2 linked regions of the Homo sapiens genome follow. The protein of the gene in region 1 interacts with the protein of each later gene in a pairwise test. Each region holds a gene or a part of one and is shown on either strand. Other genes may lie near its edges.

Region 1 (4,387 bases):
CATAGGGAGTGATTCCCTCTTTGACTTCCTTTCAAACATGGAGAAAGTCTCTGTTTGGTGCTACCCCATCTGTAACACCTTTCTAATCCTGGCAAATATTCCTTTACAACAAAGACAAAGCAGGCCTCCGGTTGGAAGCCATCCTCAGGACAGGACAGGGAAAGGCACGTGTCGATTTGCTTTTAGTATATTTGACAGTTATCTTTTTTTTTAAATTTTTTATTTTTTTGAGACAGGGTCTTGCTCTGTCACTCAGGCTTGGAGTGCAGCAGCACGATCATGGCTCACCGCAGCTTCAAACTCCCAGGCTCAAGCAATCCTCCCACCTCAGCCTCCCCAGTAGCTGAGACCACAGGTGCACACCACCACACCTGGCTATTTTTTTTTTTTGGTAGAGACAGGGTCTGGCTATGTTGCCCAGGCTCAAACTCCTGGCCTCAAGCGATCTTCCTGCTTTGGCCTCCCAAAGTGCTGGGATTACAGGCATGAGCCATTGTGCCAGCTGACAGTTATCAATGACAAGTACTGTGAATGCTGTGGGGATTACTATAGTATTGTCAAGTTTCTTATTTAAATAAATGAATTGGCTGGGTGCGGTGGCTCATGCCTGTGATCCCAGCACTTTGGGAGGCCGAGGCAGGTGGATCACTTGAGGTCAGAAGTTCGAGACCAGCCTGGCCAATATGGCGAAACCCCGTCTCTACTAAAAATACAAAAATTAGCCAGGCGTGGTGGCACACGCCTGTAATCCCAGCTACTCAGGAGTCTGAGGCAGGAGAATCACTTGAACCTGGGAGGCAGAGGTTGCAGTAAGTTGAGATCGCACCACTGCACTCTAGCCTGGGTGACAGAGTGAGACTCTGTCTCAAATAAATAATAAATAAATAGATTGGTTTAAAGAAAATCCTAACGGTAAGGTGATATGATCTACAACCCACCCAAAAATGAGGATGGCAGGTGAATGATATCTCACCTGATCAAACTGGGAACCGAGGCACAGAGAGTGAAGGTGCCTGCACCAGGGCATACAAACAGGGAGTGGGGGGTGGGGGTAACACAGCCTACTCTCTCTTGGCCAAGGCCTGTGTTGGCCCAGAGAACAGGCTTCATTCTGTGATCCACGCAGAGACGCCACATGTGCTCACCATATGTCCTGTGGTCACAGAGCAGAGCCACACTGAGCGGGGACTGCTAGTCACCTACCCAAAGATCCAGTCTCCTCTTCTATACGGCAGAACCCCAGTTGTGTGGGGGGCAGCAGTGTGCCTGGTTTGAATTGCTCAGCTTCCCAGATTCTCTTGCAGCTAGAGGTGGCCCTGCGATGTGACCCGGTTCTGGCCAATGAGATGTGGGCAGAAGTGATTGGGGAGCCCTCTGCCCTTCTCCTCCTCCCACCTGGAATGTGGAGATAAAGTGGGAGGTGGGGCAGCCAAGGCGAGACCATGAGGTGGCCACACATGAGGGCTAAAGCTGCCTGCTATGGACGGCAGGGCCGAGAGATGGGGGAGCTGGGGTCCCCAGCAGTGCCACAGAGGCCTGGAGTGCCACCTCTAGCCTTTCCTTATATAAGAAACCTCAGCTTCTATGGGGGTCCCTGTTCCACACCACCCAACGCCATCCCAGCTGATGCACTATCTGCAGCCTCCCAGCTGGGGTCTTTCCATTTCTGTCCTCGAACATCTGTTTTCCTTACGGCAAATGGGGGTCCAGAGATGAGGAAAACAAACGAAACCCACAGGACAAAGGGGGCGAGTAGTAAGGAAAAAAAGCAGAATCCCCTTGATTTTCTAATCATCCCCCACTTCCCTGGGTGAAGCCAGGAGCAAGAGGGCAGAAGGGAGCAGCAGATAAAGGCTGGCCCCAATTTCCAACTCCACACCCACATGGGCCACCTCGGCCTCCTAGGGAGGTGAGTCCCTGGCCACCAGCCACGACTGAGCCTGGTTGGGGAAACCCTGGCTTTGCCAGTAGCTCCTGCTGGACCCTTGGGTCACTGTCTGCGCCTTTCTGTGCCTTAGTTTCTCTTTATAGTAGGAAGGGAGGGCAGATATTTTCTGTCCAATTCTGACATTCTGTGCTCTGGGACTCAGGAGGGGACGAATGCTCATCTGGCTGGAAGCCACCCAAGGCCTAGGTAGCCCAACACCATTCAGGACCCCAGATCCTCAGGGGAGAACCTCTAGCCAAGCAGCACTTCTCAGTGATCAGATCCATTTGTTGGCCTCTTGGTCCCAGAGACAATGAGCCCAGGAAGGGCAGTCATCACCATTACAAGGCATTTACAGTTTGCTGAATGCCTACTGTGTGTCAGACCTGTGCTGAGGGTTGTACGGAGATCATCTCACTTATCCTCTACTGACTCTATGAGGCAGACACTGAGGACACCCACTTTGCAGATGAGAAGATTGGGGCCCAGAGAAGTTAAGTGCACTGCTTAAGGTACAGCCAGTAAGTAGCAGGTCTGGGATTTGAACCCCTGTATTTCTGGTTGTGAAACCTGTGTGTCTCAGGCTGGAAGAGATATGAGATGGGGAAGTGCTAGAAGGGATGGTGGGGGTGGGGGAGTGGTGGGCAAGGAAAGAAGTAGGCTGAAGAGGAAGCCGACGTGTCAGTCCCAGAACACCATCAGAGGCAGAGCTGGGGAGAAGAACCCACAGCACTTTATTCCCTACACAGGTGGCCTCTTCAGCTATAGCCCAGTGTGGGGAAGGCAGTCTTATCTCAAGGTTCCTTAGATTCTGCCCCAACCCACCGGCCCTTCCCTGCACCCCCTCTCCACCAGCAACTTCCTCCTCCCAACACACATAAACACGCACACACACCCCACCAACAACTTCCCCAGAAAGATCAGGGCTGGAGGCCCCCAGGCAGAAGGGGGCCACCAGCCTCACCCTTTCCCTGCCAGACAGGGTCCAGCCACCCCAAGTCCCTTGCTCCCTCCTCACCCCTCCGAGGACAGCCTGCTCTAGCTGTTAGCCATCTCCATGGTAACAACCTGGGAAGCTGAACGCCGGTCCTGGGAGAGGAGGCTTCTGGGAAATGTAGTCTTCCCAGGTTTCATGGGTCCTTCTGCCAGCGGTGCACTGGTATAGTGGGGCATCAACTTGATAGTTGTTAAACTTTCCAAAATTTTTGTGAAACACAGCCATTATTAAAAATTAAGAGGGCTGGGCACGGTGGCTCACACTTGTAATCCCAGCACTTTGGGAAGCCAGGGCGGGAGAATCCTTTGAGCCCATGAGTTCAAAACCAGCCTGGGCAATATATAGTGAGAACCTCTCTAAAAAAAAAAAAAAAAAAAATTGGCCATGGGGTTATTTACACCACAAAAATTAGCAAACGCCAAGACCAGGGCTTTTCCTCTGAGCCAGCCAGTTGTTAAACATTTACCAGCACAGCACAGCCCCTGCCCCACGGCATGCCGAATGTGGCCTTGATCGAGACAGACAGAAACCAGTGTGGGGCCTGGAGTAGCTGCCAGCTGCGGTGGACAGAACCAGGCTGCCTTGACTGAGTCCTGGGTTCTAGTCCAGGCCGGAGCTGTGATGTAGAACATTACCTCGAAGTACGGGGAAAACCTATCCATTAGGCTAGTGGCTCATGAAAATGTTTAATTTCTTTTAAATTCAGAAGAAAAAAATGAGAATAATAATGACTATATAAGTGTGAATCTGCCCTGAATTATATCTGTGTTTTTACCAATACAGTCCTAAAATATAATCTTCACTGTTTTATTTTTGGAGGGAGGGGTGCATGGGCCTTTTTTGGTCAGGGGATAGGGCTGCCAGGAGGGAATCCAGACTGTCACTGTGCTGACAAGTTTGCACAGTTAGTGTTACTGCTAGAAACTTAGGAATTGCCTCAATTCTCATGAATAGAGAATGATGTTCCCCCTCCCAGCTGGAATATCATGCAGCCATAAAAATAAGCTGTAAAGGATCAATTGCACTGTGGAGAGCTCACGAGACAGTGTGTGTAGTATTTCAGACTTGGTGCTAAAGGATCAATTGCACTGTGGAGAGCTCACGAGACAGTGTGTGTAGTATTTCAGACTTGGTGCTAAGCAACTCGTAATTACCTCTGTGGGGAACTGGCTGGGATGAAGGCAGGAAGGGAGGAGGGAGGAGAAAGGAAAACAGGTGATGCGTTATGCTAGTGGGATGCAGCATAGGCTTCATTGTCCTTTTTCAACCCTATGCAACACTTCATTCCTTTTACATATTTATTCATTCCTTTTTCTCTTCATACCCACTTTCATTTCCCACCTCTATAAAGTAACCATTCTGATGTGTATTTTTTTTTTCCAAAATGAGTATTGTTTGGCATGCTGGTGTTTTTAATATATGTTTAATATGAGACTGAACAAATATATCCTTCTGGTTCTTAT
Region 2 (3,817 bases), on another chromosome or scaffold:
TGGTGAAAATATATTTAAAATTTATTTTAGGTATGACAGCAATCTTCCAAAGTTATAGATTGAGTATAAGAGTGAGTTACAGAAAAGAAGTATTTCCAGAAGAAGAAGGCAGGTCACGTAACAAAAGGGAGCAGCAAGTCCTAAATGACAAAATTTCAGAGAAGAGTTTTAGTGATTTACTACTCTCAAATGTAAAATGAGGTTTATGAAAATACTAAGGGCTGAAGCAAAGATCAAATGAGATAATGCTGATCAAACACTTAGCATACTGCTTAGCACATGGTAAAAACCTCATTGGCATTTATTTAGTTTTATAACTACAAAGTAGCTGTATAAACGTGGAAAAGTCACTCTATTCCTCTGATCTTCAAGATGTCTAATTTTAGAAAATGTATTGGTTGTACTACATAATTACAAAGGTCTTTTCACTTTTAGGATTATTCTTTGAATGTCTTCCTAGGAGACTTCATAAAGATTTTTAATGACTTTTCCTACAGTAGTCTACCATAAGTTTTTCCCATTCTAACTGCCTTCATTAAAGAAGGCAATAACCTAGGAAAGTTATTTTTCTAGTTCAATTTCATACCTTGTTAATATAATTCTTATTAACGATAGAACCGATCTTACAATAGAGTATGGTAAAATCAGATGCCTCCAATGAGAACTTGCTGCAGCATCATTCCTCTCTTCTCTCTGATTCTGATTTATAAAAACTTAACAGAGGCCGGATGCAGTGGCTCACGCCTGTAATCCCAGCACTTTGGGAGGCCAAGGTGGGCGGATCACCAGAGGTCGGGAGTTCAAGACCAGCCTGACCAACATGGAGAAACCCCATCTCTACTAAAAATACAAAAAAATAAAAAATAAAAAAAATAAGCTGGGCATGGTGGCGCATGCCTATAATCCCAGCTACTTGGGAGGCTGAGGCAGGAGGATCGCTTGAACCCAGGAGGCTTAGGTTGCGATGAGCCAAGATCACGCCATTGCACTCCAGCCTGGGCAACAAGAGCAAAACTCGGTCTCAAAAACAAAAAAAACAAAACTTATAGATGTGTTTAACAAAAAAAAAAGCCCTCCACATCATAATCTTTTTGTTTTGTTTTGATCTGTTACAGATAGGATAGAGTGGGTAAAGAGGTAGAAGTAGCCAGATTGTTAGGACCTTAAGTGCTATGCTCAGAAGTTTAAAATCTATTTTCCAGGCAGGCAGCAGGGGGAATCTACTGAAAGCATTTGAGCAGAGAAGTGATTTGTGAACACGATATTTAGAAAGATTTATCTAATACAGTTGTGGGAGACAAACGAGAGAAACTAAGGATAAGGAGATAGTATTATGCTAGCTTAGATGTGAAGTTAGTTCCTAAAATAGGGACATGAGTGAGAATGGAAAAGATTAATGCAAGTAGGAAAAAAAATGGACAAATACTGATGATTGGATGTGGAAAGAGACAGAGAACAAGGATAGAGTCCAGTTTCTGGTTGGAAAAATGATACCATCATTGATAGAAATAAGAAAATCTAGAGAGAGAGATACTTTTGTGGGAAATGTGAATTTGAAGGCAGAGGAGGTTATGAAGGTAAAAACATCAGGTAAGCTTTTTGAGATACGGCACTTACACTTGGGACAATTGGGAGAGTCTGTGTAGTGTGAGAGTCCATTGATGGATAGGAACACAGATTGTCTGAGGCCTGAAGTCTGAAGCTTGGTGACTGCCTAATTTCAGGGGCAGGAAGCATTTGTAAATGTAAACAGAGGATTGGCATATATGTATTAAGCATTCAGAAAAGGATGGATGGTGGCAACCTGTGATAAAACAGGTGATTTTTAAAAGTATTTCCAAATATGTTAAAAAAAAAAACTATATATCTTTTAGAAGAACTGCAGTTCTTCTGGATTAGTGTTGTAAGTGACACATTAAATTAGTAGTGAGCTACAAGGAAGAACAAAACACTGGAAAGTTTAAACATTCAGACTCATTCTGTCCTTTAGGCCTGTGAACATACATGACACAAGCCCTATGGGAAAGAAGATTTCATACTCATCACCCTTCTATAATAGGATGAATGAGCCATCTTTAGGAACCTCACTTGGAATACAGTCAGCTCTAAGAGTGTCCTTGCAAACAGGAGAAGTTGAGCACATACCTTACAGAGGACATAGTACATTATTCATCACCCTCACCATCATGCTGGGAGTACATGCATGGTAATTGCATAATTTTACATATTTATCCCTCAAAAGTATACAGAAGAAACTACATATGTAGCACAGTCCTATAGCTTCTAAAGATAGGAAAGGAAAGTTGAGCCCATTCAGTTTATTAAGGATTGAACTTTTGTTGGAACTCCTGAACTCTGAAAAGATTTTCATTGAAATGTGTTTATTCAGATTCACATGTAGATGAATTCTAAACATGGGGGAGCTTCTTACAATTGGATAGAGATTGATTATCATGGGTAACATTGAAGCGTAGCATAGAAAAACAAATATTTATGGGGAAAAAAGATGTCATTTGTATTTGTTTTATAAAATGTAATCAGATTATGTAAAGTTCTCATTTTACGACCAGACATAAAACTCCAAAATAAGTTATATGTGTATAAAACAGGATTTATGACAAAAGTTAATAATACTTGTTGGACATTTTGATATAAGAGTTCTAAAGATCTTTATTCTTCACATTAGCCATGGAAAGCTTTAAATGTAATGTTTTCAAAAGTTTAAGGGCATGGCCTTAACAGTCCATTTAAAAGAACGATCTTAGAGTATTTCCAAAGACTTACTGATTTTAAATTATGATACTTGAAAACAGTAAGTACCAACATGCTTTTACAAGTATATTGTTTAGTTTATAGCATTTATCACTCATATGTTTATACATGTTTTTCACTTTATATTTTGAAACTCTCAAGGGCAGGAACTATGTCTTGTTCATCTTTGAGACACAGAATGTAGTCAATATCGAGTAGATGTGCAAATGAATGGATAGGACTTGGCTGATAGCTCATTATTGGACTTTGAAGGTGTGTTAACTTTGTTCAAAGCACTGACTGAGAGTAATTTTTAGTCTGTAACAGTAACTCCTGGTTCTTAAGGGAAGTATCGGGGGAGGGGAATGCTGAAAATCAGGTCAACATCATGTACACAGGCCATGTGCGTGTGAACGTGTGGTGGGTCTGAAGCATGAGTGAACAACTGGATTCAGCTAGAAAATTAGATTGTAAACATATTTCAGAGGGCCTTGAAGGTCACACTAACCAGTTTGCACTTCTAGTATCATTGGAGCACAATTAAGTTTTAGAGAAAGAGAGAAACTTGTAATTTAGGTCCCTGTCTGGTGGCATTATGAAGTCTGAGTTGGAGAGAAATTGGAGTCAAGGAAACTAGTTTAGGAAACATGTCATTATCCAAGCCAGAGAGAAATGAAGGTCTGAATCAGGGCTCTGGGACTAGAAGGGAAGAAAAACATTTTAGATACTGCACGCATAGAATCAGTTGCCTTTTACAACTGAAAGAAAGCAAGCCAGTCATGGAAGAGGCCTCCTTACCCTTGAGTTTCCTTAGAGCACTGGTTCCCTGGATTCATATGTGTGTGTGCATGTGCGTGAACGTGTGTATGACAGTCATGCTCTGCATAAGGATGTTTCAGTCAACAGTCAACTGCATATATTACAGTGATCCCATAAAATTATAGTATGGTATTTTTACTGTATCTTTTCTATGTTGAGACGTGTTTAGATACACATATACCATTGTGTTACACTTGCCTACAGTATTCAATACAGAAACATGCCATAAGGTTTATATGCTAGGAGC

The links.
Region 2: the proteins of DRC7 (region 1) and MBIP interact in binary tests that used the Homo sapiens proteins (3 or more experiments, as listed by UniProt).

Annotation. Positions count from the first base shown.
Region 1 is NC_000016.10:57,693,411-57,697,797, reverse strand, and holds the start of DRC7 (dynein regulatory complex subunit 7), read right to left. Parts: upstream 2,993-4,387; 5' UTR 2,946-2,992; intron 1,396-2,945; exon of another isoform or gene 1,335-1,395; 5' UTR 1,204-1,334; intron 1-1,203. UniProt on the Homo sapiens protein: Component of the nexin-dynein regulatory complex (N-DRC) a key regulator of ciliary/flagellar motility which maintains the alignment and integrity of the distal axoneme and regulates microtubule sliding in motile axonemes.
Region 2 is NC_000014.9:36,303,478-36,307,294, reverse strand, and holds part of MBIP (MAP3K12-binding inhibitory protein 1), read left to right. Parts: intron 1-3,817. UniProt on the Homo sapiens protein: Inhibits the MAP3K12 activity to induce the activation of the JNK/SAPK pathway. Component of the ATAC complex, a complex with histone acetyltransferase activity on histones H3 and H4.